2 linked regions of the Homo sapiens genome follow. The protein of the gene in region 1 interacts with the protein of each later gene in a pairwise test. Each region holds a gene or a part of one and is shown in the gene's direction. Other genes may lie near its edges.

Region 1 (2,579 bases):
TTCCTGCTGGGTTCAAATGCCAGGCTTGGCGGTTGGTGGCACAGACTGGGAAACGTGACTCCTACACCTGGGGGTCTGCCCTCAGAGGGAAGGCCCTGGTCCCCCGAACTGGCAGAACTCCTTTCTAAAAAGGGGCTGGTAGTGGGAGAAGGTGGGCCCGCTGTGAATGTAGGTGAGGTGATCCCGGGAACCTGGGTCTGAAATCAGACCTGTGTTGCCATTGGGAGCACGGAGAGAGGGGAAGCGCCCTGCTTAGGCCCAGGCCGGGCGTCCTGGTGGTGGGACCGCAGCCGCACTCACCTCCAGGCCAACGGACAAGGTTCCTGCAAGCCAGCAGGGCCACTCTGTGCTTGGCCTACTGCAGCTCCCCTGCAGCTCCTTTCCTCTCCCTCCCCGGAGCGCTCTCCTCTCTCCTCTCCCCTCTCTTCTCTCTCCTCTCTCGTCTCCTGGGGCATCCCGGGTGGAGGGATGTAGGGGTCGCTCCTCGGTGCCAGGCCGGGAAGCAGCTCAGGCCTCCCAAGAGCTTGGCGCTCAGTCTGGGAAAAGGGGTTCCTCTGGCCTCAGGGACGTTCTCCGCCCCCACCCCACCCCCTGGGAGCCTGAACCATCTGGAAGGGATCTTAGTCGGGGGTTGGGAGGAGAGCCCGTGGATAGGAGGAGGGGGCGATTCTAGGCCGAATCCAGCCCCTGAGGTGTCACTTTTCTTTCCTGCGGCCCGTCACCGCTGATAGATGGGGCTGAGGGCAGAGGAAGGAAAAAGAAAACCTCCGAGGTCAGTGCGGGGCGAGGTGAGCCCCTCCCAGGGCCCTCTGGCCCAGGAGGATGAAGCGCGCCGGCTTCGCTCTTGCACGCCGGCTTGCCATCCGGGTAAGCGCGGGAAAGGCGGCCACAGGGCGCGGCGGCAGCGCAGCGCGTGGGATCTCACGACCCATCCGTTAACCCACCGTTCCCAGGAGCTCCGAGGCGCAGCGGCGACAGAGGTTCGCCCCGGCCTGCTAGCATTGGCATTGCGGTTGACTGAGCTTCGCCTAACAGGCTTGGGGAGGGTGGGCTGGGCTGGGCTGGGCTGGGCTGGGTGCTGCCCGGCTGTCCGCCTTTCGTTTTCCTGGGACCGAGGAGTCTTCCGCTCCGTATCTGCCTAGAGTCTGAATCCGACTTTCTTTCCTTTGGGCACGCGCTCGCCAGTGGAGCACTTCTTGTTCTGGCCCCGGGCTGATCTGCACGCGGACTTGAGCAGGTGCCAAGGTGCCACGCAGTCCCCTCACGGCTTTCGGGGGGTCTTGGAGTCGGGTGGGGAGGGAGACTTAGGTGTGGTAACCTGCGCAGGTGCCAAAGGGCAGAAGGAGCAGCCTTGGATTATAGTCACGGTCTCTCCCTCTCTTCCCTGCCATTTTTAGGGCTTTCTCTACGTGCTGTTGTCTCACTGGGTTTTTGTCGGAGCCCCACGCCCTCCGGCCTCTGATTCCTGGAAGAAAGGGTTGGTCCCCTCAGCACCCCCAGCATCCCGGAAAATGGGGAGCAAGGCTCTGCCAGCGCCCATCCCGCTCCACCCGTCGCTGCAGCTCACCAATTACTCCTTCCTGCAGGCCGTGAACACCTTCCCGGCCACGGTGGACCACCTGCAGGGCCTGTACGGTCTCAGCGCGGTACAGACCATGCACATGAACCACTGGACGCTGGGGTATCCCAATGTGCACGAGATCACCCGCTCCACCATCACGGAGATGGCGGCGGCGCAGGGCCTCGTGGACGCGCGCTTCCCCTTCCCGGCCCTGCCTTTTACCACCCACCTATTCCACCCCAAGCAGGGGGCCATTGCCCACGTCCTCCCAGCCCTGCACAAGGACCGGCCCCGTTTTGACTTTGCCAATTTGGCGGTGGCTGCCACGCAAGAGGATCCGCCTAAGATGGGAGACCTGAGCAAGCTGAGCCCAGGACTGGGTAGCCCCATCTCGGGCCTCAGTAAATTGACTCCGGACAGAAAGCCCTCTCGAGGAAGGTTGCCCTCCAAAACGAAAAAAGAGTTTATCTGCAAGTTTTGCGGCAGACACTTTACCAAATCCTACAATTTGCTCATCCATGAGAGGACCCACACGGACGAGAGGCCGTACACGTGTGACATCTGCCACAAGGCCTTCCGGAGGCAAGATCACCTGCGGGATCACAGGTGAGGCGGGCAAGGAGGATGGCTGGGAGAGGGAAAGCGAATTTGTCCTGGACACACCGAGTCCTGATAGACATTCCCAGTGTCATTATAATCCCCTGTGATCTAAAATACACCCTCAGTCACGCTCCTCAGCCCGGTTCAGCTAATTCCCAACATCTACCCTTTCTTTCCCCCAGCGGCTCTTGCTACGTTCTTGTTTGGAATGAGGGAGGGCCTTTCCTCAGTCTTGGACAGGAACAATCTGTTGGCCTTAGTCCTGGGATGGTTATCCTGTCTCCTCCCGGTGCTGTGGGGAGTGGTGCAGGCAGAACCCAGGTACCCTGGGGTGCCGGTCCTGGCTGCAGTCGGGCTACTTCTGTTGGGTTTCGTCCCTCCCCCCACCCCCCACCCTCCACCCAGGTGCGCCCCAGAG
Region 2 (4,078 bases), on another chromosome or scaffold:
CTACAAAATAAATGGTTTGTATTCTTCAAAAGTGTTCATGCCATGAAAACTGAAGAAATACTAAGCAACTATTTTCCAGACTAAAGCAGATTGGAAACATGACAACTGAATGCAAGGTGTGATCTTGGATTTTCTTTTGCTATGAAGGACATTATTGGGCCATTTACCAAAAAAAAAAAAAAAATGCATAAAGTTGATAGATCATAGTATTGGTAATTTTCTGATTTTCACAATAATACTGTGTCTCTGTGAAATAATGTTCCTGTGTTGGGGGAAAATACACACTGACGTATTAATATTTAGGAGTAAAAAAAATGCTGATGCCCTATTTACAATCGGATTAAAATTCAAACCACTTCAAGATTTGGTCTCCTGTGCACTTGTTCTCTTCCTGTCATTCTTCCCCACTTAATCATTATGAGAGGTCACTCTGACGTGACAGTTCCCAGCGCAAGCCAAGTTTTTTACTGTTCCCTAAACCACTGTCTTTTGTTACCCTATTTTAGTTTAAATATCACTCACTCAGAAAGTCATTCCCTGAGCACACTGCCTAAAGTTAGTACCTCCATTGTCTATTAAAGCACTCTTTCTTCTTACTATTTTGCTTATTTATTGTTACCTATTTATTCCCACTGAATGGAAATTACATTAGAAATGGGGGTATGCTCTGTTCACGGCTTTTTCTTGAACACGTGGAATATACTAGCGCTCAAAAAATATCTTTAATCAGACTTATCTTTAACTCTTACCAAAAAGCGTTATACTCATAGAAAGAGCACTAATACTTCCGTAAAATTCTAAGCTGAATTCAAAGACGATACCCTTTAAGTGAAACTTCACGAGAGCCTGAGCACAAGGAGGTGAAGTGGATGCCATCAAGATTCTGGGTCAGGGTCGGGACGCGGAGGAAGACAGGTTACTTCGCGCCTACTGCTTTTTCTACTTTTTGTGAGAGTATACCAGCATCTCTCCCTTTGGCTTAAAGAAAGAATAAAGTGAGGAGAGAATAATAATATAAAAGATAAATAATAATTCCAAGGAAAGGAATAGAGCAGCTTCTCAGATACCACGACGCCAAGCGGCTCAAAGTACGCGAACCGAAGGAGGAGCCTTTGCTTTCCCCAACCCCGCCTCCATTGCTTCTGCACATGCGCGCCGCCAGCCTCTCGCGGCCCGCTTTTTTCCCACAATACTCCTCGTCCTGGGGGCCGGAGCCGCGGAACGAGCCACAGAGAAAAAGGTTATTGGTTGGCAGTTCAGCCAATGAGCGGGCCTGTTACTAGTTTGCGGCATCCTGTGGTATAGGGGAAGCGCTCCGGGCCTGGAATCCCTACGCGTCCCTTTGGGTTTAGCACGATGAGCTCAATCGGCACTGGGGTGAGTTCGCTGTCTGTCGGTGTAATAGTTTAACCTAAGGATTGGGGTTGAAGGGAACTCGGACAGACCACATGGGGTTCGCGGACCCGGGGTGCTCTGAGACCGCCTTCGGCTGGGTGGGCCATTTGCAGCTGTTTGGAGACCGGTCGTCTTTATCCCCTATATGCTAGGCCTGCGTCTCAGGTGACCGTGACTCCTGAAGCTTTTCAGCGCAGGTGTAGCCGGCTTGGCGTCGCCGCAGTGAGGTTTGGAGCCGCTTTGGATTGCTGAGTCACTTTCTTCAGCCACTTAGGGAAACCGAAAGTGGAAACTCGTGGGGCTTGAAATAGTGTGTTCTCTTGAGAACCACCGAGGCAGTGAGATTTGGGATTCCGGGGTCTGGAGATCGTGCTTTTTGTGGACTGCGTTTGCAGTTCCTAGGGTGCTGCTGATTCACAGGCCTTCTCTGTCTTTAAGTGTGCAGATCATTGACCGCTCAGTTTAAGAGTCACTGGAAATCCTGTCGGAACAGAACTAATAAAAATGGTCTGAAAAACAATCTGATGAATCCTTCAGTTTTTCCTTTCTCGTTTTTCCTATACAAATTACCTAACAGCGCTTGTAGGCATTTATTCCGTAAACGTTTAAATGGTTACTTAGGAACTTAACAGCTTCAGACTTTTCATAGACTGTTGAGGATTTTGCAGTGGGACTTGTTAACTTGTTTGGCTTTCCTTTGTTAAACGTATTGCATATGTGCAGTCAGTTTACTCCTTTTATGTACTTCTCTATATAGAAAATACAGTTTCTAAAAGATTTATTGGTTATTTGCACTAGAGTTATTGAATAATGAGTTTCTCAGTTCCTCAATTTCTACTTCTTAACAAGATTCTCATGCTCAGCCTTAAGTTCAAGTACCGGTGTTCTAAATTTGATAATAGGCAACTTATGTCTGGAATGGTTTAATCCATTCAGTTATGAATGCTAAAGTTCTGCCATACTTTTCTTGGATAAGTAAATGCTCAATATTAAATCTTGTAGCAAACTGACTTTGCAATTATATTAATATTACCTTGAATTAATAGTATTTCATTCTACAAACCTTTTAAAGAATACTTGATAATGTAACCATGTGGGATATTTTAGTAACAATGGTAGGGTTAATGATCTGGGTTTAACAGATCAGGAAACAGACTCAGAAAGTACCACTGCTGAAGGCTTTTCTTCTGTCTTCATTTCTCCCAAGAACTCCAGATACGAATATTTGTTTGTCTGCTTGACATGTCTGTTCACTTGATCGTTTAATAGTCATTTCGTACTGCATGTGAAAGTAGAGCTCTGGGTTTTCTCCTCACCTTGCCATTTTGCATCTACTACAGTCTTCAGCTCAGTGAATGGTCATATGAAAAAATCTGTTATTCATCTTTAATTCCTTTTTTTACTTTACTCCCAGAACCAACGCTTTAGCAAGTTTATTTTTTTATTTTTATTTTGTTTGAGACGGAGTCTTGCTCTGTTGCCAGGCTGGAGTGCAGTGGCACGATCTTGGCTCACTGCAACCTGTGCCTCCCAGGTTCAAGCAATTCTCCTGTCTCAGCCTCCCGAAGAGCTGGGACTACAGGTGCGCACCACCACGCCCAGCTAATTTTTGTATTTTTCGTAGAGATGAGGTTTCACCATGTTGGCCAGGATGGTCTCCATCTCTTGACCTTGTGATCAGCCCGCCTCACCCTCCCAAAGTGCTGGGATTACAGGCATGAGCCATCACGCCTGGCCTAGCAAGTTTATTTTTATTATTTTTATATTTTACTCTACTCTCAAAAAATATTCCCTTCTACCTCTTCTCTCGTCTAAGCTACTACCGCTATCTTTGGAACACCTTATCTTTGCTTCTGTTGTTCTCTCTACAGCTTATTTTCCGCATAAAGCCAGAATGATGTTTTTAAAAATATAGATGATACCACTCCCCCTGCTTAAATTTCTCATTGCATTTAGAATAAAATACAGAGTCCTTTTTCCATCCTGGAAGACACAACATAATCTGGCCCTCAGCTACCTCACTAACACAGTTTACTCTTCTTTCTGCTGCTTACAGTGCTTGGGACACAGTGACCTTATTTCTGTTTCTTGACTGTGCTAGCCTTATTTCTACCCTAAGATCTTTGTGCCAAATGTCAAGAAGACTTTTCCTTCATATCTTAAATGGCTAGCTCCTTGTCATTTAGGTTTGACTCAGCCTAAATATAACTGCCCAGAAGGCCTTCCCTGATGATGTAGTCTGTAGTAGTTCATTGCTTTACTCTTTTATTTTCATCTTAGTGCCTTTTCTGATTTACTGCTGTACCTCTAGCACCTAGATTCATGTCTGATGTGAAACTGAAGGACTTAATGAATGAGTATACCTTTGTATTCCGTATAGTAACATAATAGATACTCATTAACTGCTTGGTGAATGCCGAATGATTTGTTTGAAGTCTTTTAGTTTGTTAATGGCAGAGTTATCGTTACAAATTTAAATGTTCGAACTCCAGTGCTGGTTCTACTGCCCCATATTAATCTTTTTCAAAAATGAGTTTTGTAGTCTGGGTGAAAAGTGTTCTGACTTCACCTGGGACCTGTATCCATTACTCTTCAATAGCTGAAATCGAAGGTATATAGCTTTATCTTAGCTACTGTTGCTGCTCTGACAAGTTTCCCTTTCCTCTCTTGAAAGCAAGGTCTT

Evidence for each region. The genes of interacting proteins can lie anywhere in the genome.
Region 2: the proteins of OSR2 (region 1) and PSMA3 interact in binary tests that used the Homo sapiens proteins (3 or more experiments, as listed by UniProt).

Annotation. Positions count from the first base shown.
Region 1 is NC_000008.11:98,947,442-98,950,020, forward strand, and holds part of OSR2 (protein odd-skipped-related 2), read left to right. Parts: intron 1-731; coding exon of another isoform or gene 732-980; intron 981-1,075; exon of another isoform or gene 1,076-1,245; intron 1,246-1,397; coding exon of another isoform or gene 1,398-1,511; coding exon 1,512-2,167; intron 2,168-2,579. UniProt on the Homo sapiens protein: May be involved in the development of the mandibular molar tooth germ at the bud stage.
Region 2 is NC_000014.9:58,243,565-58,247,642, forward strand, and holds the start of PSMA3 (proteasome subunit alpha type-3), read left to right. Parts: upstream 1-1,278; 5' UTR 1,279-1,356; coding exon 1,357-1,377; intron 1,378-4,078. UniProt on the Homo sapiens protein: Component of the 20S core proteasome complex involved in the proteolytic degradation of most intracellular proteins. This complex plays numerous essential roles within the cell by associating with different regulatory particles.